Homo sapiens: one gene and its partners. The protein of the gene in region 5 purifies or fractionates together with the protein of the main gene of each other region. This does not show direct contact. Each region holds a gene or a part of one and is shown on either strand. Other genes may lie near its edges. The genes, in order: GNPDA2, UBLCP1, RDH11, RMDN1, CABCOCO1, RAP1B and LETM1.

Evidence for each region.
Region 1: the proteins of CABCOCO1 (region 5) and GNPDA2 purify together in Homo sapiens (affinity purification with mass spectrometry; one large-scale study listed by BioGRID and IntAct). This does not show direct contact.
Region 2: the proteins of CABCOCO1 (region 5) and UBLCP1 purify together in Homo sapiens (affinity purification with mass spectrometry; one large-scale study listed by BioGRID and IntAct). This does not show direct contact.
Region 3: the proteins of CABCOCO1 (region 5) and RDH11 purify together in Homo sapiens (affinity purification with mass spectrometry; one large-scale study listed by BioGRID and IntAct). This does not show direct contact.
Region 4: the proteins of CABCOCO1 (region 5) and RMDN1 purify together in Homo sapiens (affinity purification with mass spectrometry; one large-scale study listed by BioGRID and IntAct). This does not show direct contact.
Region 6: the proteins of CABCOCO1 (region 5) and RAP1B purify together in Homo sapiens (affinity purification with mass spectrometry; one large-scale study listed by BioGRID and IntAct). This does not show direct contact.
Region 7: the proteins of CABCOCO1 (region 5) and LETM1 purify together in Homo sapiens (affinity purification with mass spectrometry; one large-scale study listed by BioGRID and IntAct). This does not show direct contact.

Annotation. Positions count from the first base shown.
Region 1 is NC_000004.12:44,713,057-44,716,556, forward strand, and holds part of GNPDA2 (glucosamine-6-phosphate deaminase 2), read right to left. Parts: intron 1,604-3,500; exon of another isoform or gene 1,540-1,603; intron 1-1,539. UniProt on the Homo sapiens protein: Catalyzes the reversible conversion of alpha-D-glucosamine 6-phosphate (GlcN-6P) into beta-D-fructose 6-phosphate (Fru-6P) and ammonium ion, a regulatory reaction step in de novo uridine diphosphate-N-acetyl-alpha-D-glucosamine (UDP-GlcNAc) biosynthesis via hexosamine pathway.
Region 2 is NC_000005.10:159,269,790-159,273,289, reverse strand, and holds part of UBLCP1 (ubiquitin-like domain-containing CTD phosphatase 1), read right to left. Parts: intron 3,383-3,500; coding exon 3,291-3,382; intron 2,931-3,290; coding exon 2,845-2,930; intron 2,763-2,844; coding exon 2,647-2,762; intron 1,268-2,646; coding exon 1,169-1,267; intron 1-1,168. UniProt on the Homo sapiens protein: Dephosphorylates 26S nuclear proteasomes, thereby decreasing their proteolytic activity. Recruited to the 19S regulatory particle of the 26S proteasome through its interaction with 19S component PSMD2/RPN1.
Region 3 is NC_000014.9:67,682,265-67,685,764, forward strand, and holds part of RDH11 (retinol dehydrogenase 11), read right to left. Parts: intron 2,941-3,500; coding exon 2,751-2,940; intron 1-2,750. UniProt on the Homo sapiens protein: Retinol dehydrogenase with a clear preference for NADP. Displays high activity towards 9-cis, 11-cis and all-trans-retinol, and to a lesser extent on 13-cis-retinol.
Region 4 is NC_000008.11:86,505,887-86,509,891, reverse strand, and holds the start of RMDN1 (regulator of microtubule dynamics protein 1), read left to right. Parts: upstream 1-1,205; 5' UTR 1,206-1,271; coding exon 1,272-1,400; coding exon of another isoform or gene 1,401-1,442; intron 1,443-2,779; coding exon 2,780-2,897; intron 2,898-2,944; exon of another isoform or gene 2,945-4,005.
Region 5 is NC_000010.11:61,756,929-61,760,428, forward strand, and holds part of CABCOCO1 (ciliary-associated calcium-binding coiled-coil protein 1), read left to right. Parts: intron 1-3,130; coding exon 3,131-3,253; intron 3,254-3,500.
Region 6 is NC_000012.12:68,617,399-68,620,898, reverse strand, and holds part of RAP1B (ras-related protein Rap-1b isoform 1 precursor), read right to left. Parts: intron 1-3,500. UniProt on the Homo sapiens protein: GTP-binding protein that possesses intrinsic GTPase activity. Contributes to the polarizing activity of KRIT1 and CDH5 in the establishment and maintenance of correct endothelial cell polarity and vascular lumen.
Region 7 is NC_000004.12:1,821,657-1,825,156, forward strand, and holds part of LETM1 (mitochondrial proton/calcium exchanger protein precursor), read right to left. Parts: intron 2,120-3,500; coding exon 1,988-2,119; intron 1,476-1,987; coding exon 1,332-1,475; intron 657-1,331; coding exon 525-656; intron 1-524. UniProt on the Homo sapiens protein: Plays an important role in maintenance of mitochondrial morphology and in mediating either calcium or potassium/proton antiport. Mediates proton-dependent calcium efflux from mitochondrion.

The DNA of each region.
Region 1 (3,500 bases), on a different chromosome or scaffold from region 5:
GGACGCACTTATTAAATAATGGCTGGATAAATGAATGTATGGTTGCTATTCTTTGGTCAGCTCGGTATAGTTTATTCCACCTCCCACCTTGTTCTCTTCTGCCTTGCTCCCCTCACCAGAGGGGCTGGAACAATTTTAATTTCCTATATCCCTCTTAGGTAAAGTGACTGTGGTCTAGAGATAAGCACTTGTCTCAGGCTGAGCCAATCAAAATATCTGTCTGGATCTGAATCTTGACCAGGGATACAGTTAACGAAGACAGCATGGTGAACTGAAGCACTGGATGACAGCACTGCAGGGAGAAGATTGATGAGTTTCTACTTCTGAGATCTGAGGTTCTCTGTTTTTCCAAAGACTTGGTTGTTTTAACTTTTCCTTCAGTTTGTGAGTTACCCTAGAATCATTCCAGTTAATTTACTTTTGATCCCATTAGTTATTTCCTTTTTCTACCAAAGCAAAGAATCCAAGCATGCAACCAAATCAGAAGGTTAACATTTTCTCCACTGTCTTCTTTTATTTTTACTTTTTAAAAACACTATTAGGCCGGGTGCAGTGGCTCACACCTGTAATCCTAGCACTTTGGGAGGCCAAGGCAGGTGGATCACCAGAGGTCAGGAGTTCGAGACCAGCCTGGCCAATGTGGCAAAACCCCATCTCCACTAAAGATACAAAAATTAGCCGGGCATGGCGGCAAGTGCCTGTAGTCACAGCTACTCAGGAGGCTGAGGCAGGAGGATCGCTTGAACCTGGGAGGTGGAGGTTGCAGTAAGCCAAGATCAAGCCACTGTACTCCAGCCTGGGCAACAGAGCGAGACTCTGTCTCAACAACAACAAAAAACCCAAGACACTACTGCGTTAAGATATTTTAAAAGTTTATATATTTAGATTTTATTGTAAAACTAGATTTTTAAAATTATTTATTTATTCATTTTGAGACGGAGTTTCACTCTTGTTGCCCAGGCTGGAGTGCAATGGCACGATATCAGCTCACCACAACCTCGGCCTCCCAGGTTCAAGTGATTCTCCTGCCTCAGCCTCCCGAGTAGCTGGGATTACAGGCATGCACCACCACGCCCAGCTAATTTTGTATTTTTTTTTAGTAGAGACGGGGTTTCTCCATGTTGGTCAGGCTGGTGTCGAACTCCCAACCTCAGGTGATCTGCGCACCTCAGCCTCCCAAAGTGCTGGGATTATAGGTGTGAGCCACCGGATCCCAGCCCTAGATTTTATTTTTAAAAATCCATGTTTGTATATCTTATTGCTGGGGTTAAGTCAGGAATTGCATGATACACCTTTTACCCTTTCTCTGAACACGTTTGCCATCAGAGGAGGAATTAGAACATTTGAGTATGTATTTCCTCCTTTTTCTTTCCCTCTTCCCTCAGAGGAAAGGGACCTCTGCTCTAATTCCCTGGAATGAGCAATAGCAGATTAACATTTTTGAGCTCTTCTCATTCTACTGTTTCCAATTCAAAGGGCAGGAGTGAAAAACCCCATTCTGGCTTCAAGCCCAAACTGCAATCTCTATTTCAACTTTACCTTTAATAAAGCTGATATTTTGATCCCATTTGGCACAGTTCTTAGAGTTTTTATTAACCAAACCCTGGAACAAAAGAAGGGTAGTTGTAAGACCCAGATGCCAATCCTCATCTAAAAATCCAATGATGATAAACCTAGATCAACAAATGAGATTCTTTCATGAATACATATCCAATAATAGGGCATCCCAAATAAGGAAAAGTTCAAAGAAAATGCAATAATCCTTCTCTCTCTCTGCACAATTATGTCCTTTAGATGGTACATATAAAATGTCAGGCATTGGATCATCCATGACTACAGTGAAGATGTTAATGTAAGAGGCACAGGAACTCTCTTAAAATATATTTGGGAGCGGGGAGGAGCGGGGAAACAACTACAGGAAGCTTAAGACAAACTGGTTAAAAAACCAAGTCAAATTCTTTTTAGTGGTGTCAGTGATAAACATATATAATTATAACTTATGCAACATCTATTTCAAAAGGAGAACTGAGGTGGTTTATACTGAAGAAACATAACCCCCTCCCAAAAAAAATTAGCTGAAAAGAAGTACGAAATGATTTAAAGTTATAAGGAAAGAGGAAAGTTCTACCAGACATCTTGGATAAGAATTACAGGCTTAAACATTATTTTATGCTATGAATGCTTTCTGGAAGGCAGGCAAAGGAATAAAATCAAGTGTTCTTATCAGTGTTATTCCCCATAGTAAAATCTATTTCCTACCTTTGGGTCTACAAGAGATTTGTCACATGCATACTTATGTAAGGTCAATAAATTAACAAGGGGGAAAGAAAGTCTACAAATGAAGATATTTTCAAGCAGCCACTTTTAATAATGAACCTCAAACAACTAAGAGCCTTTTTTTGCATTATAGTAAATGAGTGAAAACATTTTTTGATATAAGCAGTTGAAGTATGTGGTACTCCAGTAATTCTACCAGATTTTGGTGTGGAGCTTAGAAAATCTAAAGATTAGATGGTCTATGCACCCCTCAGACACTCTCAAATATCTACTGTCTAGCCTGAATATTGGAAGGTACAAATGGTTAATTATCTCAAAATTGAGTCATACGTACAAAGCAGGAGTATGCAAATGTTCTCTAGGATTACTGAAGTAATATTAGTAAATTTTATTTAAAACAGATAACCTTCTAATTTGAAAAGCAATAGTCTAACTTGGTTTCTTGCTCCAATAAACAACCATTCTATCAAGAAAGTAAATGTTATTGACTCTGCTAGGTAGAAGTAAAAACTATCTTAAAGAGAAGATTTCAGTCTTCCTGGATGTCCCTAGAGGGAATTCGGTAAAAATCCCAAGGAATTCAGTAATTCTAAGGGACAATTATTTCCGCATTTACAGTTGAGAGAGAAAGAGAAGACTGAAGTAGCACTTATGGAGTACCAACTATATACCAAGCACTGTGTAAGGCATTTTATACATGTTACAACATGATTAATTCTCACAAATTTTGGAATGTTTAATATTAATCCTCTTTTACAAATGATGTACCTATACTGAACTTCAATAAACTTTCCCAGGTCATACAGATACTAAGTGGCTAAAACAGGATACAATTTTACGTCTGACTTTAAAACCAAATTTCCCCCAATGATAATCAACTATCTCAACCATACTTGGCCACTTCAAGTATAAATTAACCTCAGGACAGCTCTATTGAAGATCAAATTCATGTAATTTTGATCAGTGTTCTATTAAGTTAATAATAAGTTATATACAGATAATTTACAGCATTAGTATTTTTAGTTGAATATTAAAGAATCTGGCAAAAAATTTTGATTTTAGTTTAGTTGATGTTGAACTATTCTTATAGCAATTAGCTAGCTGTCTGCGATAGTTTACACTGATAATAGAAAACCACGTTGTCATTACAAAGGAAAAAACTTATTTTTAACTGTAGATTATATATACACACACATATATAAATTACAAGTGGAATTTGGTAA
Region 2 (3,500 bases), on a different chromosome or scaffold from region 5:
TTTAATAACATTTAAAGGATAAACTTTTTTCTCAAATATCATCTTAGATGTCAAAGTTGCTAAACAAACCAGCAAGCTTTCTTCACCTTATCTTACTAAACCAGAAAATTATATATTTTGACAATAATTTTAATCTTAACAGCTGTGAACTCACATGGAACTCACATATCACAAACAACGGAAGTACTCTGATTATAAGGAAAAATACAAAATGAATTTACAGACTGCAACAACTAACATAATTTCTCTCAAAGACCTAGTACAATGAAATGTAGCACCTTTACTTGATGGGACTTCATTTAATTCAGTCAGGATAACTCTTCTCTGCTTATGACATTGCCAAGAGGCAACTTTAAATATTTGTGGGGAGGAGGGATGTAAATCAATGCATTGCTTCATTTTCCAAGAAAATCTTGCTACCAAAAAACGTTAATTGAACTGAATAGTGTGCTTACGATTACAGTATATTTACTTCTTGGAACAAACTCAGTATCTTATCACAGACCTGTACATTCTTGAAATGGTCCGCAGACCACAATTTCAATGTCACTGGCTTTAGTCCACATATTAATTTTTCCTTAAGTAATTCAAGTTGCCTTTATTTCCAGAGAACTATATCACTGTGATTTTGTTTTAAACACCTTTTTCCAAGTATTTTAAAACTGGAGTCAGGAAAAAAGGAGAAAAGAAAAATATTCTGAAGCATCAAGAATTTCACAGCAAAGATCAGAAGGAAAGGCTGGGCACATTGGCTTATGCCTGTAATCCAGCACTTTGGGAGGCCAAGGCAGGAGGATCACTTGAGCCCAGGAGTTCAAAACCAGTCTGGGCAACACAGCGAGACCCTAAAGATATGTGCCTAGTTAAAAAAAAAAAAAATCAGAAGGAAAAACTTCAAATCAAGGTGGGGTCATTGGGAAAATTAGTCATTTTTATTCTTACACTATAATGTACTCATGTCCTATAGTTAAATTAACTATCTCACTGGTATTTGGCCAATATATGTTTAAGTTTATATTGTGATACATGCTTCATTTTAGAAATTTGCTAAAAAATGAAAACTATTTCATATTTAAACACAGGTCATTTTAAGTCACATTTTATACAGCACAATAATATATGGAACAACCTATTTCCACGGAAATCTAAACAAAAAAATACAGCTTACACCAAATAACAATGTCATAATCTTCATAGGCAGATGTTAGAAATTCATGAAGATATGGCCGCATTAATTCTACCCCAGTCTCTGCACAAGACCTGTGGTCTAAAAGAAAATTGATCATAAATAATTATTAGTTTACCATCATGAACAAGTACCTAATACCAATTATTATTAAATGTAATATATTACGAAATGCAAACATAAACATTTCATTGCAAACTGCTTCAGACTGAATTACGTTGGCTGACAAAAAGATGTCTTTCAAAACACAATTTAAAATCCTTAAGATCCAATTTTAGTCGATCAATTTTGTTCAATTTGCAAAAAGCAATACTGAAAATTCAGGCTTAAGTAGTAAACTGAAAATTTTTTTCTCACCTAGTCTCTAAAGTTTAGATGTTATTTTTTAATAATGAAAAACAAACTATGTCCACTTATACTCACCTTTAGTCATCTACCTTGCAGATATAATCACATTTCATCAAAATGACAGGCCAATTAACCAATTAATTAAATTTTTAAAAACTGTACATTAACTTATGTTTTAGGTTTAGGGTTAGAAATAAATTCCAGTATCAGAAGTTAACTATTTCTTGCCAACATTAGACATAAAAGGAACATCTTTCTTTTTCAATGAACACAAAACATTTTTTTCTTTCTTTTTTTTTGAGACAGGGTCTTACTCTGTCACCCAGGTTGGAGTGCAGTGGCACTCCATAGCTCACTGCAGTCTTAATCCGGGCTCAAGTGATCCTCCCACCTCAGCCTCCTAAAGTAGCTGGGACTAGGTGCATACCACCACATCCAGCGAGTATTTTTAGTTTTTATTAGAGATGAGGTCTTGCTCTGTTGCCCAGGTTGATTTCCAACTCCTGAGCTCAAGCAATCCTCCCACCTCAGCCTTCCAAAGTGCCAGGATACATATGTGAGCCACTGCACCTGGCCTACATGAGAAATTTTAAATTCAAGAATCTGCTTGAATATAACTAAACAGAAAACTAGTGATAAAATATCAAACATAATTTTTAAAATATTCCTTATAAAAAATTATTTATAATCAACAGGGAATAACATGGTTAAATGATGATGCATCCATAAACTAGAATACTTTCTGGCCAAAAAAATAAAAAAATATATATACACACACACACATATATATATATCATTCATAATAAACAATATTTTACTGAGAAGATGTTCAATGTGTTATTAAATAAAAGATTTAGAGGAGATCCATACAAACAGTCTAAAAGATATATATCAAATTACTAAGAGTGGTCATCTTTGGGTATCAGGATTACAGATGACTTTTTTTTTTGCTTATCTGTATTTTTTACAATGAGCAATTTACTTTTGTAATAAGAAAAGTTTTCAAGTATTTCACGAGAACCATGAGTTGCTAAGAAAAAAAAAAAACAAAGAAAAGAAAAAAAGAGTTGTTGTGGGTAACAGAAAATGAAAAGCATTCTTAACTGACTTACCAAATAATGTATAATCAACATCTAGCACCAAAAGCTTTTTCCCTTCCCTGGGAGGATTCAAAATTTCCACTTTGTACTCTTTCACTCTGCGAGAAATTTTCAGTAGGTTTTCTTCCCTAATGGAAAACATATAATTAGATAAAATATTCACTTGTTCTCACATGACAACTGATTACTTCTAAAGCGAAAAGCACTTACCTATTTTCTACTTCAACTACTTCATCTTCAATATCAAAGTCATTAACAACATCATCATTGTCAGGGGGTGGACCTAAGACATCTTCCTATTAAGATGGAAAAAGTTTTGTTCTACCATATTATCCTTAATATAACAAATACATGCATAGCATAAAAATAAAATGAGAGATACAATTTGAGTTCCAGAGTCTTTTAAGCCCATACTGGAAAATTTCCACAATTAATAATTCGTTATGTATGTTTCCTGGGCAGATTTACCATATTAAATTTGATCATTTGTGCTACTACTATACTTATACAGTTAATAACACATTCACGGTGCGGGTTTTATTTTTCATTGATTGCTAGACTGACAATTTTACCACAATTAAAACTATAATACAACAGTGTAGTATAAATCATAATATCTTCAAATGGACAAATGGTAACAAAAAGTAAACATTTACCAAGCTCTCCTCACGAGTTCCCATCATCATGATTTTAGTATTTGGTTTCAGTTTGAGAGCTCCAAGCTTAACATCATTTTCTGCAGGTTTGCCTACAATACAAGCAAATGACTGTTTTCTCACTAAAGTTCAGGTGCTGGTTTCACTATTCCATTATATAAAACCCTAACATTAAAAGGTTTGGTACAGATGTCACAGCAATTTTTGTTG
Region 3 (3,500 bases), on a different chromosome or scaffold from region 5:
GACTTCATCAAAATTTAAGTTTTACATTTCAAAAGATACCATTAAGAAAGTTAAAAGACAACCCACAGAATGAGAGAATATTTGCAAATTATATATCTGACAAGGAACTCGCATCTAGACTATTAAGAACTCTTGTAACTCAACAATAAAAAGACAATTATCCAACTTAAAAATGGGCAAAGGACTTGATAGACATTTCCCCAACAAAGAAACAAATGAACCAAAAAGCGCATGAAAGAATGTTCAACATCATTAGTAGGAAAATGAAATGAAAATAAAAACAAGATATTCCTTCATACTCACTAGGATGGCTAAACTCAAAAGGAGAGACAATAACAAGTGTTGCTGAGGATGTGAAGAAATTAGAATACTCATAGACTGCTGGTGGGAATGTAAAATGGGGCAGTCATTTTGGAAAAGTTTGGCAGTTCCTCAGCAGTTAAACACAGTTACCATATAACCCAGAAATTCCACTTCCATGTACCCAAGAGAAATGTCCACACAAAAATTTCTACACAAATGGTCACAGCAGTATTATTCAAATAGCTAAAAAGTGCAAACCCAAATGCCCATCACCTGATGAATGAATAAATAAGATGTGGCAAATCTATACAATGAAATGTTATCCAGCAATAAAAAGAAATGAAGTACTGACACATGCTTTAGCATGGATGACCCTTGATAACATTAAGCTGAGTAAAAGAAGTCAGTCACAAAAGGCCACATACCATATGATTCCATTTATATGAAATGTCCAGTAAAGGCAAATTCTTAGAGACATAAAGCAGACTAGTGGTTGCAGGCAGAAAGAAGAGCCAGTGCAAAAATCTTAAGGCTTCAATCAAAAGACTTTTATGTTCATTTCTTGATGGTGGTCTACACGGCTGCTGTTGGATCTTCAAAATGAATTAAGAATCCATAGCACAGGAAAGGCTCTTCAAAAGTCAATCCAATAGTAAGTTATGGATTTAGAGCTGACTTTCTTTAAACCACTCAGTCAAAACCAAGATAAAGGGTTATTTTTTTTTTTCTTAAAATCTCTAGGGAAGAAGAATCCAGTCACTCTTGGAAAATCAATCCAGTATACTATATAAATCTATCTTCTTATACTTCAGAACCACATTTCCAACTATCTGCTATACATTTCTACTTGCATGCCTTATAGATAACACACATGCAACATGTACAGAGCCAGGTTTGTTACACAGTGGACAACTGTTACTCTTTGGCTGAACATTCTACTTTGTTTCGGCAATAGCAACCTGATTTCCTTCTGCAGAATCACCTTTTCCCCTCAATATAGTTTGAAGAGAGCATTAATAAAGTCCCTGTTTGCCTCTAATCAAAAGAGTAAAAATGAAGGGATAGGAGGAAGGAGATCCAATGCTTCCTCCCTAGAGAATGGATGATAAGCAATACAACCTAAACACTAAAGATAGCTGGCATTCGCTCACTCTAGCAGCAATGCCCCGGCTGGCTGACTGCCACTCTGACACTTCTTAGCCTGGCTCTTCAGTCTTCCCTTTCAACCTAGGGGTCCCTCCTCTCCCTACTAATATTTTAATAAATTTCCTTCTTGCTTAAGCTAGACAAAGTCCCTTTCAACTGCTTTGGAATCCAAGAACCCTAAGTTCCACACATTACTTTTCCATGTCTGCTGTCTTAGTTAATGTCATCATCAACCTCATTCAGGCTTGAAATTCAGGTTAGCAAAGCCTCCCTCATCCCCTCATTTAATTAATCATCCAGTGATAAAAATTCTGCTGCTTCAGGGCCTCTTTCACATTACCATTCCTTTCATTACAACTTTCTGAAACTCTCTCTCTCACTAGGTTAATTATTCATTCATGAAACAAAGTTGCTAAAGCACAGACCAGATTTTGTCTGTCTACTGAAACAACTCTGGGGCTCCTCCACAAGGCTGGCATTATAGGCCTCTCATAATCTGTCTGCCTTTCTTTCCAATCTTAATGCTATTTTCAGCTACTTCCTTAAAATTTCAGGTCATTTCAACAATAACCTGAAGTAGAGGTAAAAACATGTTAAAATTTTGATCTTATGTGATGCCTGGGATTTGCTTCAAAATAATATGGGAGAAGAAAAATATGGAAAGGGGTAGAGAATGGGGATAGGGCAGAATTGGCCATGGGTTAATGGTAGCTGAGGCTCCATTATATGCAGGCTCAGTGCACTATTTTATCTAACCCTGTGTTATATTCAAAATTCTCTACATTTAAATCATTTTAAATGTCTTCGCTTATTTGAGAGGGGAGTCCATAGTATTTCAATCCTGAGGACAATAGAGAAATGCAGATTCAAATTCTTTTTTTTTTTTTTTGAGGCGGAGTTTCACCTGACCTTAGGTGATCTGCCCACCTTGGCCTCCCAAAGTGCTGAGATTACAGGCGTAAGCCACTGCGCCTGGCCTCAAATTCTTTTTAAATTCTTTTTAATGTAAAACAATAGAATTAGGAATCCAAAAAAGAATAAAGAAAACTGGACTGACATAACAAAGACAGGAAGAAAACAAACAGAATGCATAATTATCAGTATAAAAGATGGCATAAAATCAAATGTAGCAGTTATTACAAAAGAGAGTCAAATTCCCCTACTAAAAGGTAAAAACTCTAGAGTTAAAAGACAAAAGCTATATGAGACAATGTACTTTTAAAAAAGGGTATACCCAGACAAACCCAAATTATCTCCTTTGAGCAATAAATCTCATCTGCAAAAAGAGATAACATTCATACCTGAAATGATTCCCACTTAGAATCTCAAGACCTTCTGTTAAGGCACAGTGCAGGCTGGTCTGGGCTCCCTGCTGAGGAGTCTTGATGAAAAAGGAGAAAAGCCACCACATCCATCTCATGAAAGATGAGTGCCGAACCAGTTCAGATTGGACTGTGCCAGGGTGTACAGAATACGTCGTAACGCCAGAGCCTGGTTGGGGGTGGCATGAAGAGAGGGTAAGACAGGACTTGATTTTGCAGAATAGCCCAAAACAGAAAAGGATGTAAATAAGCATGTGACCTTCACATATGGACTCTTTTGCCCATGGTGACATCAGAAGTACTGCTCACAGTAATTTATACTTCCATCTCACAGATCTAAGAAGGCTCTAGAGTAGACAGTGCTAAGGACCTCTGTGTATTTCTGACTGGAAACTCAAGTCAGGAATCAGCAGAGCCAAGACTCATCCTCTCAGCAGCACTTAACATCGTTGACCACCCCCTTCTTTTTTAGAGATGGGGTCTCCCTATGTTGACCAGGCTGGTCTTGAACTCCTGGCATCAAACAATCTTCCCACCTTGGCCTCCCAAAGTATTAGGATTACAGGCATGAGCCACCACACCCACCCCATCCCCTTCATTTTTTTGAGACAGGCTTGCTGTGTTGCCCAGGCTGGAGTGCAGTGGCATGATCTTCCTTCTGCCACTGCCTTCCAGGTTCAAGCGATTCTCCTGCCTCAGCCTCCCAAGTAGCTGGGACTACAGGGGTGC
Region 4 (4,005 bases), on a different chromosome or scaffold from region 5:
TTGGGAAAAAACAGCTAGGTTTCAGAAGTTGGGAAGGAGATCTATATATTTTTAAAGATAGACTTTAAAGACATAATCCTAAAGAAATACAGCTGATTTAATGGGACTAGTGGAGGTAGCAATCATATAGTAGAAGGAGCACTGGACTCAGAGTAGAAAGACATGGATTCCTGTCTTCTAACATATCCTTGGTTAGGTTAATACATCTCTTTGAGTTACAGTTTTTTCATTTGTAAACCTGGGATACCACTTACTTCACAAGGTAGTTCGGAAGATCAATACGACTATGTATTAATTCCCTATACAGTATTAAAAGTACCATAGAAATGCAACCTAATTTTTTAAAACCATGACTCGCCTCCCTTATTACCCATAAGATTTTTCGTTAAACCCATATAGTAGGTACTCCCTTTGCAGTCTGTGTTTCCACCCACCCTGATCAGGCCTCAAGTAGGATCCAAAATTTCTTCATTTTCCCACAAAAGAATTCCACTCGAGCAAGAAATTTTATTTTACTCGAGTAAAATAAAATACTTTGCTCGAGTAAGTAAAACATCTTATTGAAGAATTTTAGGGGAGACCAGGGTTTGTTTTTGTTTCTGTTTTTTACTACACATGCCCTAGCATTCAAGGGCATCAGTATCCTTTCCAGAGGCCTCCTCCCGCTAGTTCCTCTTCCCAAAACGCTTTGCATTTTTTGTTTCTTTGCTCTGGACTCTCTCTTGAATCTACCCCCTTGAGTCGCTCAGTCGAAGAGACTGAGACTTTCCCTTCTTCATGTTGGGCAACATAATTCTTCCAATTATTTACTTCCAAAAAAGACCCACTAGTACCAAGATTCAATCTACTTTTGAAGGCAGCAGATAATTAAAATGACAATTTTTTTTCTGGCATACTTGTATTCTCGGGTCTATTTCCGAGCTTTCAGTTCTATTCTGGCGACGAATCCTTGTGCCCAAACCATGAAAGACCCCCTAGAGAGATGGAGCAGAAACAAGTCAGAGCGCCTGAAGAGAGCGCTCTCACGGCCTCAGTCCTGGACGCAGGCGCGGAAAGTCCATTAAGTCCCACCCAATCGGGGTATTTCCCACCCCCTAAGCCCGTGCACCGGAAACCATGGGGGCGGAAGAGGTGCTGGGCAGGAGGCGGAAGAGGTGCTGTGCAGGAGGCGGGCGGGCGCGGTTCTTTCCGGAAGGATTGAATCTCCTTTAGCCCCGCCCGCCTCCGTAGCTGCCTGAAGTAGTGCAGGGTCAGCCCGCAAGTTGCAGGTCATGGCGCTGGCTGCTCGACTGTGGCGCCTTCTGCCTTTCCGACGTGGAGCCGCCCCGGGGTCTCGTCTCCCTGCGGGGACTTCGGGCAGCCGCGGGCATTGCGGCCCCTGTCGATTCCGCGGCTTCGAGGTACCCCCGTGGTCCTGGCTCCCGCTCCTCACTTCCTACTCAGTGGGTTCCGGCTCCCCCTTAACTTAAGTGGTGGCGGCCCCGCGCTGCCTAAGGAATGTGGTGAACCGAGGAAAGAACTCGGGGCCACTGTGCCTGGAACGCCCGGACAGGTCCCTTCCATTTTGCAAACCTCCACTATCCTTAACTGGGGCTGTCAGAGAAGGAGTGGGGTTTGCCCCCACGCGCCCCAGAAGCTGCCTGCTACCCGCCCTTCTTGTGCGAAATGTAAAACAGGACGGGAAAGAACCTTGACCGCTGTGAAATTATTCTCCCTGTAGGCGATGACAGATACAACAGCGCTTGAGGCTGCCCCTTTCAGACTTTGAAAAGTGTGGTGTGTGATTTAAAAAGTTCTACGACTCAGAAGCAGAGATTTCATACTGTTTAGGTTTTTGTTTAAAAATGTTTATTTCTCAGTTGCCCGTTGTATCTGCATAACGTCAATGAAGGTTGTCGGCATGTTGTAGTCTCAGTTCTGGTATTTCTATTAGACTGCTCGTGGGCCTCTGTTTATTCTTGTCAGGGAATTGGAATGGCATTAATGCATATGATATATTTCACATGAACTAGGGGTTTCATTATTTTAAACTCAAATTTTTAACTGCTCAGTTAAAATCTTTCAGAATTATTATGGGACTGATGGTGGGGAGGGGTGGTTAAAATTTGGCATATTCCCCTTCCTTGGAAGTTTATAACCAAATGGGGAGGTTATAGATAATATAGGCAGAGAGATGGGAGGAGTTCTAAGTATGAAACTAGTTAGCCGTAAGTTTTCAAATTGGAACAATGATGAGTTTGAAGTCCCATTTTAGGCCTGGCCCCTTGGCTCAGCCTGTAATCCCAGCACTTTGGGAAGCCGAGGCGGAAGGATTGCTTGAGTCCAGGGGTTTGAAACCAGCCTGGGCAACACAGTGAGACCCTGTCTCTACAAAAAAATTTAAAAGTTAGCCATGTACATTTTTATATGTAGTAATTACTATATATGATAATCTTGTCTGTAAGATTCATTTTTATTATGTGTTGGTGTCTCATATTTTACTTCATACAATTTGCAATATCCATGCATTTGCAAATAAGTTGTAGCAAATAAGTTGTAGCTCTTCCTTTCCAGCAGGAGTGTGATTTTTAGATGAGCGGCGACTCCAGGGGATATCTTTTTCTCAATAAGATACGCTTTGAGATAGTTTTACTAAAGATTTTGATGAAGTAATTTTTAAGCTTCCAGTATTATGATCGATTGCTTTGGGGGTGGGAGAAAATTCATGTAATTTTTGCTTGGGGTAGCAGTACCTTCAAATTTTCAAAGTTTGTAACTCTTAACATAATTGTTTCCATAGGTAATGGGAAACCCAGGAACTTTCAAAAGAGGCCTTTTACTCTCAGCTTTGTCGTATTTGGGTTTTGAAACTTACCAGGTTATCTCTCAGGCTGCTGTGGTTCATGCCACAGCCAAAGGTAAGCATAAATTAGATATATGGAACATTTAGAGTTTTTTTGTGTGCGTACATTCAGAATTTTTATTTTAAAACAAAGAATCAGGGTAATGTTAATAATAGAAAATCCATATGGAAATATTCACAATCTGCTCAGTGAGAAATGGGAAAACAACTTCCCTGCCTAACTGCCAACCTACTGTTTGAGGAGCCAGAAGTTGACGTGAAGTTGGAAGAAGGTCACCTTTTCCAGCTAAACCCCACTCCATAGCTATGTGCATTTTTATTTGAAGTCTCCGTGACCAGAGGAAACAGTGAGAACTGAGAACCAAGATACCGTTATCAGCAAGGGTTTGGCTAAAGGGTCTGAGATGTGTAAGCACCAAGAAGGGGAAGGGAAATTGAGCAACATATGAAAAAGGGGCTGTAGGAACACAGAAAAAATAAGTCAACAATAACCTATTTCCATCCAGAGCAAAGGGACAGTGCACACATATTCATCCTCTCAAGTGTGGGCTACACTGTACATTGACTCATACTATCTCGAACATGGTCTGTTGGAAAGATTGAGACCCCCTAAGGGCACTTGGCATAGGACCACAGTGACATGGTAACAGACATAGACAAGCATGGCATGACCCTAAAGGCAACAACACACCTTTAGATAATAATCGTTCAGAAAAAAATCCCAGAGCTGAGGTTATAAATTCCAAGTTAGCTATAAACATTCTTTGGGGAATTCCTTTAAAGATATGAGTTAAAATAAAACAAAATCAACACCTAAAATCTCCTAAAGCACAAAATGGAGAAATAATGAATCTCTACCAAGAACTGATTATTTTAAGTTTCTCATTTGGATGGCTCTCCCACCAGATAGGTGGTGGGATTACTTCAAAAGTAATGAGTCTCCTACAAGGAGGAGTTGTTTGGTCCAGTGAGGGGGAACAAGCTTTCTAGAAATAACTTTCCCTTCCCTTGACTCCATTCAAAATTAGAACCCATCAACCACCATTAACTACAATGCCCATATTAGTTAATAATCCTAGATTTCAAGTACTACTACATGTAAACTATTAAAAGAAAAAAGTTCCAAAGGAAATCAATAACTTTATTATGTAGGCATATGACTT
Region 5 (3,500 bases):
ATGTATAAAAATAGTTATAAAACTAGCTTTATTTAATTTGTTTCAACTATTCATAGACTTGAGGAAATTATAACGTTCTTTCAGAAAATCTAACTTAATAAAGCTGACCATGTCTCTCTGTTTTTAAATAGATTTTATTACAGAACCAGTGATGTTGTAAAACATGAGGTTTTGTTAAAAAAAAAAATACAAAGGCCTAATTGTATTTTTTAAAGAAACTATTGCATCAGACGGTTTCATTTAAACGTATTTTCTGGCTCTGGGCTCTCACCACAATTATTGATTCTAATTTTCCTTAAACTTGCTTTTTAAAAAGGCTACCATTTTTAATGTGAAAAAAATCACTGTGATGCTTCTGGGCATTATGTTTATTTCAAACCATATATTTGATAATGTACTTTATTATTATTAATGAAAAGACTTTATATTTACCCTCATCTGAAATTGGGACATTTCTTTCCCTTGCAGTATCTCACTAACACAGCTAAGTGTAATTCTTCATAAAGGAGAAAAACTGAGCTAGGGTTTGGTTCACTAATAGTATGCAAAACACCCTGAAGAAAAGAAATTCTCACCCCCCAGTTTTTGTGCACCAATTAAATCAAATTAATAGTTATATGGGCTACACTCATAAAAATCAAGGCAAAGAAAAGCTCAACTCTCAGTCAGAACTTCAGGTTCTTGGGAGTTTCACTCCACCAAAGAAATGATGATGTGGAAGCTGGGAAGTTCCAAGTTTCCAAGTGTGTGCCCAGTACACACACACACACAGACACACACACACACACACACACACAGTGCCAAAGACCAGGAAACTGGGTAGTTGGTGAGTCATTCAGATGAGCCTTATAAAGAAATCCAGAGGACAGGGATGTGAGGGAAAGAAATGAGAGAATTGGACACAAATACCTGCTTACATTTAAGTGTATAATGTGATGGGGAAATGGGTACAAGTAGAAAAGGGCCAGTGGTAGAATCTGCTACTACCAGGCTAGAGAGGCAACCTATTGAGAACTTCCACAGGGGGTGAGGGCAAGTGAGCAGGAAGGCCTAGCCTGTGTATGGCCAAGCTTAGCAACAAGACAAATATGGTGACAGTAGACCAGAAAAAATTCTACTGCATTAAAAACAACACTTTTACCTTGCAGATTATCTCAGTGCCTGCAGTAAATTCAGTAGACTCCATTCAATTCCTTTCTCTCTTCTTTTCAACGTCTCACTCATCCCCACCACCCCCACTCCAAACTTCCTGTTCCTTGGTGTATATTAAAGTCTATACCACTAAGTAAATACCTCATCATCTTCCCTTGTCTCTGATTCCCATGTGCAGCTTATTTATTTTACCTATAATGTTTCAGAGGCCGCTAAAATATGTTTAGCTGTCTCCTTTTCCTAGCTTGGTAAAATAAAGAGCAATAGAAGGTAAAGGAAGGATGAAAAACAAGAGTGCTGAAAAAAGGTACAAATCATTTCGTGGGAAGGTGAAATTCTTGTTTGCCCCATTTAGGAAAAATGCAATGGCTCGTGGAAGTGCATAAGAGAAAAGAACTGTTCTGATATGTTTTCTCAATATTCTATTTTGATTAACATTTAGTTGACTTAAGATAAACAATCTGGAATGATGTCACCTAACAGAATAAAAATTAAGTGCTTGATAATAGCAATAATTTCCAAATATGGCAACTTAATGACGTATTACAGTTTACTGAAAACCACAAAGGACAAGAAGTCAGCACACCAGGGTTTAATTCCCAGCCCTGTCAAGAAGTAATTATTTGACCTTAGGCCAATCATTTAACCTCTTGGTTTCCAAATCTTTTTGCCTATAAAGTTAGGACACGTTGGGGCTTCTATATATTTACACTAAGCAACAACTTTGTATAAAATCAAGTTAAAATTAATAATATTAATTCAATGCAAAACACATAAGCATTTGTAAGACCAAAAACAAACCTTAGCTTCCAGCGCATTTCAAAACTTATCTAAATCAAAAACATTAATATTTAAATGATGACATGTAACATATTTATTTGAAATATTGTAGAGACATTAAAAATGAATGCATTATTATTTCATTGGGTTTTTTTTCAGGCTTCACAGGATGATAATTATTTCGTGAATTTATGCATTTTCAAAATTTTGTCTTCAAACTTATGTTTGAAGCTCTAATCTCAGGGCCTGACTTTGTCAGCATACTGTGGGTGGCTTCATCCCTGGGCCACAATAACAAGCTCCTATAAAGCAAAACAATTTACCAGTTTACAATGAGGCATGTAGTAGGCATGAAAACGAGAACCCTCAAGTGGGCACGTCTCTACAGATCAATTGGGATGGGAATTGAAATTAAAATCAAATGTTGCTTATTAAACATGGAATTAGAACAACTAATTAAATGAATCAAATGTTTAATGTTATTAATACCCTCATCTCCCCTTTCCCTCCCCCAAGTCAGAGTGAGATGAGCACTGCCAAAGTTGGCTTCCTTGACTCTCCTTTTCCTTCATTTCCAGTGTTAACCAACCGTCAGCCTCCTTCTGAGTGGCACGCTGTTGCTAAAGAATTGTTAAATACTCATAGTGAAGTCTTGCCTTGCCCTGTGTGTTTTTGACAAATCTCCTTCCTGATCTACTGGCTTCATATATTAATCTTTGCAGCCCTTATTGTCTTCATCACCAAGTTCTTGATGGCCACTTCAGCAGCTACATTCTGCTGAGTAATAGCAGTCCCCATCAGGATGACATTAAGTGTATTAAACACCTAATCCTCTGCCAGAACTAGAGAAGATACACAGAGCATCTAAAACTTGGTTCTCCACCTACAGAGGGCTTGTAGTCAGGAGAAGGGGGATACTGAAGCACAAAACAGTTAAGAACGAGGAGATACTACATGAAATCCTAAACCACAGAGTATCGAAAGGAAATGAGACAGTGGGAAAACAAAGTGTTAATTTTGAGAAATGGAGCTCAAAAAGCACTAGAGGACAAAAAGGGCAATGGCATCAAAAATTCAAAGGAGGTGGCACTTGAAAGATAACAGACTTGGAACTATGGTACATATATAACGGAACTGACCGAAACTGTGGTTGCTCACCAAAGGCTCTGTCATAATTCAACTTTTTTCTTCCCATCAGCAAGTGATAGAGGTTGTCAAGTCTGCATGTGGCCCTTTCCCAAATCCTCTGGAAGAAGGAATCTCATTTGATATTTATTCAACATTCATAGAGCCCCCCACAATATTGGATACGGAAATGAAGGTATATTTCTTTTTGTCTTTCCATTCACCCTACCTCATCATTATATTCTCTTGGGGTGGGAGGAAACGAACTAAATGTTTTCTTCATTTTCTTTGCCTCTGATTTTTCCCAACCAAATACAAATATTTCTCTAAGTGTTGATTCAAAGATGAGTCCGCTGATGGTAGTTCAGCAATTTTAATCTTTTCCACCCTACCCTTCCTAATCTCCACCTTCACTTTCCCCTGGGCACCACATTGGTACCATG
Region 6 (3,500 bases), on a different chromosome or scaffold from region 5:
AATGTGGAACCAGACCGGTGCGGTGGCTCACTCCTGTAATCCCAGCACTTTGGAGGACTGAGGTGGAAGAACCGATTAGGCCAAGGAGTTTGACACCAGCCTGGGCAACATGGCAAAACCCTGTCTCTACAAAAGTTAGTTGGGTGTGGTGGCATGCGCCTGTAGTCCCAGCTACTTGGGACGCTGAGATGCATCAACTGAGCCCGGGAGGTCGAGACTTCAGTGAGTCGTGGTTGTGACACTGCACTCAAGCCTAGATGACAGTGAGACCTTGTCTCAAAAAAAAAAAAAAGAAAAGGAAAATAAAATTTGGACTTATCCCATGAGTTTATAAAAACAGTTTAACAAGGATTGCTACAAATGTTTTTAAATTAACATAAAAAAGAAGGCCACAGAGTGGCTCTACCCAGCACTTTGGGAGGCCGAGGTGGGCGGATCACCTGAGGTCAGGAGTTCGGGACCAGCCTGGCCAATATGGTGAAACCCTGTCTCTACTAAAACTACAAAAATTAGCCAGGCATGGTGGTGGTGCCTGCAATCCCAGCTACTTGGGAGGCTGAGGCAAGAGAATCGCTTGAACCTGGGAGGAGGAGGTTACAATGAGCTGAGATTGCACCATTGCATTCCACAGTCCATCCTGGGTGACAATAGAGAGACTCAGTCTTAAAAAAAATAAAAATAAAAATAAAAAAAAATAAAAAAATAAAAAAACCACCACCACCAAGAAACAGCATTCTCCTGAAAGGTAAAAAAAGGATCATTCTACAGGTGTGTTTTTGAAAAGTGTCTACTTAAGGTAAGACAACACACCAAATTCTCAGGTCAAAAAGACATTACTAAACTTGAAACTTACAGCTTTACTATGGAAAAGTTATCAAATATTTTAAAACTGAGAAAGTCAACTACTAAAAATCTACTTAAGGATTATGTTAGACTTTGGACACAAGGGAATTCTGTCTATAGATGAGCAGTCAGGTATACAAAACAAATATTAAAACCAAAAATAGGCTTAAAAATAACTATTATCTAATCCATTACCAAGACCAAAAGTTGAATGGAATGCACAGAGAAGACTACAAAGAAGTTAAACTGATTATATATTAATAGGAGATTTTAAGATAAAGCACATGAAAACATTGCTTCACATTTATCTATGGCTCCCATTCCTGTTTCCAACAAAAATATAAACAAAATAAATCAAAGAAGACATTAAACACTGAGAGCAAAGCATGGAAAAATAAGTAATACAAAATACATTAGACAGTTGGGAATATTTTAATAGCATTTTCAGATAAATCTGGATACTGGTCTTTGACACTACACCAAAGCTCAGCAATTGGTTGCAATATGGAACAGGATACCTTATTGATAAACTTTTATGTTCTCTATAACATTAAAATCCATTGGTCTAGCTGACACTTTGTAAAGATTTCTTACCCATGTATGATTTTTATAATACTATGCATTGATCATTTGGAAATACTGACTCAGTTATGCAGATAATCAAATAATGACAGATTTCATTATATACTTACAGCAGCTGATACAAGCTTTCTAAAATTTTTGCTTAAAATCTAGGAACTTTATCATCGACCATAAATACTACCACTATTTTCCCTAAAGCAAAGCCTCACTGTTTTCAAGAAAATGTCAGCCTAATGCCCAAGTCTGGCATTCTTTTAAGCAAAAATGGCATTATATGAAGATTGATTCAGCGTGTGACTCAATCACACAAATACTTTCCCTAGAAACAACCATTATATTTCAGTATGCTGCCAAGTGTTTTTGTTTTGTTTTTCGAGACAGGGTCTTGCTCTGTCACCCAGGTTGAAGCGCAGTGGCACGATCACAGCTAACTGCAGCCTCCAACTCCTGGGCTCAAGAGATCCTTCCACCTCAGCCTCCAGAGTAGCTGTAGATGTGCATGACCACACTAACTTTTTTTTTTTTAATAGGAGAGACAGGCTCTCACTACATTGCCCAAGCTGGACTTAGCCTCCCAAAGTGCTGGGAGGCTTGCTGTCCATGGCCTCGCCAGTGTTTTAAGCATACTTCCCATTTTGTTACAGTATATTAAAGATGTGTACAAAGGTAGAGATTTAGTTTAAAATTTTTTTACTTCTTCATCAAGAGCATTTAGGTGAAACTTAAAAAAAAATCTGAGTGCATGGCAGTGAATAATACAATGATTACTAGGACAGTGAAGTACTCTAACCTGGTTTATTCTAAAGCGCCAGAAGTTTTATCCACCACTGTTTTTATACTACAGGTACAAATGTCACTACAAAGAAAACGGCAAAGAATGTCTCAGTATTATAAAAATAGTTTTGCACTTGTAGACTCGCCAAAAATGTCTAGGGGACCTCCAGGATTCCTTGGACCATACCTTGAAAATACTGATCTAGGTAATTCATTTGTTACACTAATCAAAACTCACAATTATTTATTAGTCCTTATTCATACTTTAATGGGATTCTTAAGCAATGCCATAGGAGAATAAAAGCTTTATAGGGCCAGGCAAGGTGGCTCACGCCTGCAATCCCAGCACTTTGGGAGGCCGAGGCGGGCAGATCACAAGGTGAGGAGTTCGAGACCAGCCTGGCCAATATGGTGAAGCCCCGTCTCTAAGAAAAATACAAAAAAAATTAGCCAGGCGTGGTGGCGCATGCCTGTAATCCCAGCTACTCGAGAGGCTGAGGCAGGTGAATTGCTTGAACCTGGGAGCAGAGGTTGCACTGAGCGAAGATTGTGCCACTGCATTCTAGCCTGGGCGACAGACTCCACCTCAAAAAAAAAAAAAAAAAAAAAAAAAGCTTTATAGAACAAGAACTAATACAGCTGGGTATGGTGGCTCATGCCTGTAATCCTAGCAGTTTGGGAGGTGGAGGCGGGCAGATTACTTGAGCTCAGGAGTTCAGACCAGCATGGGCAACATGGTGAGACCCCGTCTCTACAAAAAATACAAAAATTAGCTGGGCATGGTGGCATGCGCCTGTAGGCCCAGCTACTTGGGGAGCTGAGGCTGGAGAATGGCTTGAATCTGGGAGGTTGAAGCTGCAGTGAGCCAAGTTTGTGCCACTGCACTCCAGCCTGGGTGACAGAGTGAGGCTGTCAAAAAAAAAAATAGTACATTACTGTATTATTTTATGGTTTATGAAACATTCATGAGTAATACTGCATTTGATCCTCAACAACTCTAACAACAGTATGTCATCATTCTCACTGAGGAGGCAAGGAGGTTGGAAAGCTTCAGAAGGAAAGTACACATTTTGCTTTAAAAAAGTCATTGTAGTGATGGCATTACGGATGATACTCATTTTCTTCTTTATACTTTTCTATATTTTAAACATTGGTAAGAACGTCAAAAAGACATATTTGAACTCAGCCAATCTTATAAATACAAATCAGTACACTATCTCAAGTTTGTTAATTTCAAGAGCAGTAGGAGAAAACAACAGATAACATATGTTATATATCTCATCCTATCCCTCAATTCAAGA
Region 7 (3,500 bases), on a different chromosome or scaffold from region 5:
CAGCCCGCGAGTTCAAGATGGAAGGTACCAGGAGGCGCCCCAGGTAGGCAGCACAGGCGCCTGGAGGCTGCACCTCACAGGCTCGCATGGGGAGTCTGAAGATGCTCCAAGCCCAGATCACCCCACAGGAGGTGACAGCAGGTTGGGCCTGTGGAGGAGGCTCTACCTTGAGGGGCCACATTGGCTTCCACACCCCTTCACTGTCTGGGCAAGCTGGCAAAGGGCCCTGAAACCTGCCGACTGGCATCTCTACCTGCCACACTGTGGGCCAGGGTGCTAAGTTCACGGCAGCGTCAGCTGCTGTGCACCCAGGCACAGTGCGGAGCCCGGCCGGACTCACTCTTTTCCTAACCACCAAGCCTCCTAGGGGCCCAGTGGCCTCATCCTCAACCCCTTGCACCATCTCCTCTCACTGAGGGCTATAGATGCCCCAGCTAACCTGTCCCCATCCCTGCCCCACAACTGTCCACAAAGCCAGGCCATGCCCTCCTCAGCCTCCAGGGCCCCAGAACCTGCCTCATTACCTTCAAGCCCTCCAGCACCGGGGCAGTGTCCTTCAAGGTCTCTGACTGCAGGACTGTGTCAGGCATTTCTGGCTGTGGCTCGGTCCCCGGCCTTTGGGGAGCAGCTACCACACGTTCGGGCTCAAAATCCTTCTGAAAGGCAAGGCGACACCAGCCCAGCGCCCGCCATCACACAGAAGCAGTCTTCTTGCTCCCCGAAGCTCAGAACATATGGCAGAGGCCACACTGGGAGCAGGCCTGCAGGTGACATTGGGCAGCACACCTGCCACAGAAGGTCCCTAGGGAGGCTCCATGCAGCTGCCAGGTCACCTGGGGCCCTCTCCAGAACAGGCTAGAGCACCTTATCCATCTCTGGTCTCCCCAAGACTCCCCCAAGCTGCCCTGTCACTTGCAGAGCAGGAGGCTGAGCCTGTGGGTGGGCACCATGCATGTGACCCAAGAGGACCACAGGGCCCGCGTTGAAGAGGAGCCCAGAGGCTGGGGGAGCCTGCAGCTCCTCTGCCAGCGCCCCTCACAGCAAGTCCCTGAGGAGAGGGTGGGCACTGCCATATGCTAAGCTTGCCCCTCTGAGACGGCTAAGGTATATCTCCCATGAGCACCACTGTGGCCATCGGGGAGTCCCCATGTCAGAGTTGCAGCCCTCACACCCGGGCACCCTGCCTCCCTGACCACTCCAGGAGGAAATAAACATGCAGGACAGAGCTGCAGGGCAAGCATGCGGGAGGCCAAGACTGTGGGCGTGCGGGGGTTTCTAGGGAGGCTGGCTCAGGACAGCCCCACGCGGCACGGAGCAGGACCACCGCTTACCGCCACCTCCGAGCGCTTCTGCAGCTCCTTCTCACGGTGCTCCTGCTGGATGGCCGCCTCCTCCTGCAGCGTGGCCTCCAGCTTGGCCTTGTTGTCCACCTGCTCGCCCTCCACCTCGGCCACTTTCACCTGTGCTTCCTTTGCCTTCAGAAGAGGGTACATCTGTGGGTGAGCCCAGAAGCCACCAGAGGCCCCTGCTGCCCCTCACCTCTGTCCTGTGTCCTGTGTCCCCTGCCCCGTCACCACCTGGGCTTCACACACACAGGACAGAAGGCACTGCCGAGGTGCTGCCCGCAATTGCTGGGAGGCCCCTGGGCCGCCCTCTGCGCTCGCCCGATGACTCCTGACATGTGGGAAGGAGCATAGGCGCTGCTGACACAGCTCCAAGGGCCGCGGCCCAGATCCACAGCAGCCAACACGTGGCCAGGTCGGGACCACTGGCAACTGTGCCACACGGGGGATGGCAGGCAAGGGGCTGGTGAGGAGGGATGGAAGGAAGGGGACAGGTGGCTGGGTGGGGGCACTCGCGAGGGGGTGGGAGGCAGGCTCCTCGCCCATGGTTGAGGAATGAGTGCGCTTGCACACCTCCCCCCACCCCAGAAGAGCGGAGCCACCTATGAAGAGATGAGGTAAAAGGGGTCTCCGACAGCACGTACCACAATCTCTGGGAGGGTCTGCAGTGTGGACTTGAGCTGGTCGGCTGGAGAGAGGGTGTCCGGGAGGTACATGGCCCGGGACAGGATGAGCAGCGATGTGGGGATCTCCTGATGCAGGTGCAGGTCCAGCCACTGCAACCAAGGCCAGGTTCAGCAGATGGGCAGCCCCCCAACCCTGCTGGCCCCACAGCAGGTCCGCCCATCTCATCACCAGAATAGCTCTCAGAGAAGACAGTGTCTCAAGTTCTACAAGGTCTGTTTGTTGCTGTGCTGCGTGACCCGATGACGGCGTTAGTAAACAAAACACCAGAGAGGCTTGGGGGTCAGCAACCCCCACAGCGAGGACCCCAAGGGCCTCAGAACAGGGCACCAACTCTTCACTTAAAAACACCCCAGGGGCCGGGCGCGGTGGCTCACGCCTGTAATCCCAGCACTTTGGGAGGCCGAGGTGGGCGGATCACCTGAGGTCAGAAGTTCGAGACCAGCCTGGCCAACATGGCGATCCCATCTCTACTAAAAATACAAAAATTAGCCAGGTATAGTGGTGTGCACCTGTAGTCCCAGCTACTTGGGTGGCTGAGGCACAAGAATTGCTTGAACCAGGGAGGCGGAGGTTGTTTCAAGCCGAAATCGCGCCACTGCACTCCAGCCTGTGTGACAGAGCAAGACTCTGTCTCAAACAAAGAAACAAGACCAGCCCAGGTCAACATATACGGGCCCGCAGAGGCAGTGTCACTGAGGCCGGTCAGCACTCGGGCCCTTGCAGGCTCTGCACAGGCCAGGTTCCGGGGCTGGCTGCTTGAGTAACACCAAGACAATCTCCAAATGGGCAAGAAAGACCGTGACAATGTTTAGAGACAAACTGAACACGGGGCAAAACATGAGAACAAACCCTAAGAGAAGAAAGGCAACGCTGAGGAGAAGTGGGTAGAGAAAATATGAGAACAAACCCTAAGAGAAGAAAGGCACCACCGAGAGGTGGGTAGAGAAGGAAAAGTGTGAACACATGACACTCGGGCCCCCAATGCGCCACACTCCCCTGGGGGCCGAGGGGCCTGGGCAGGGACAGCACCTGCCCCCCTGCTCAGACACCCCTGTGTGTGTGGCCCATATCCCCACGGAGCTCCAGAAGGCTGGGCAGAGTGCTAGGGAGGTCAGCACCCATGCCAGACACAGAGAAGGCTCTGCTGGGGAATCCGATGGAAGACGCGGCTGTGGAAGGCAGGGGGTGCCACAGGATCACGCCATAAATACTGTCTGTGTCGAGAGGAGAAGTGTGTACACACACCTTCATCTACACTTGCAGGTTGTGTGAAAAACCCGGGAGGAGGATGACTGCCAACAAGGGCATGCCAGTGCCAGGGCACCGGGAGGAAACCGGCTGGAGCCCTGCACCCCTTAACCTTTCCATGTAAGAGTGAGTGGCTGGGGCTGTCACTTTCCGACCTACAAGCCACTCAATTTGATGGCATTGGGAACCAGGCACCAGCACAGGGCGTGGCCAAGAGAAGGG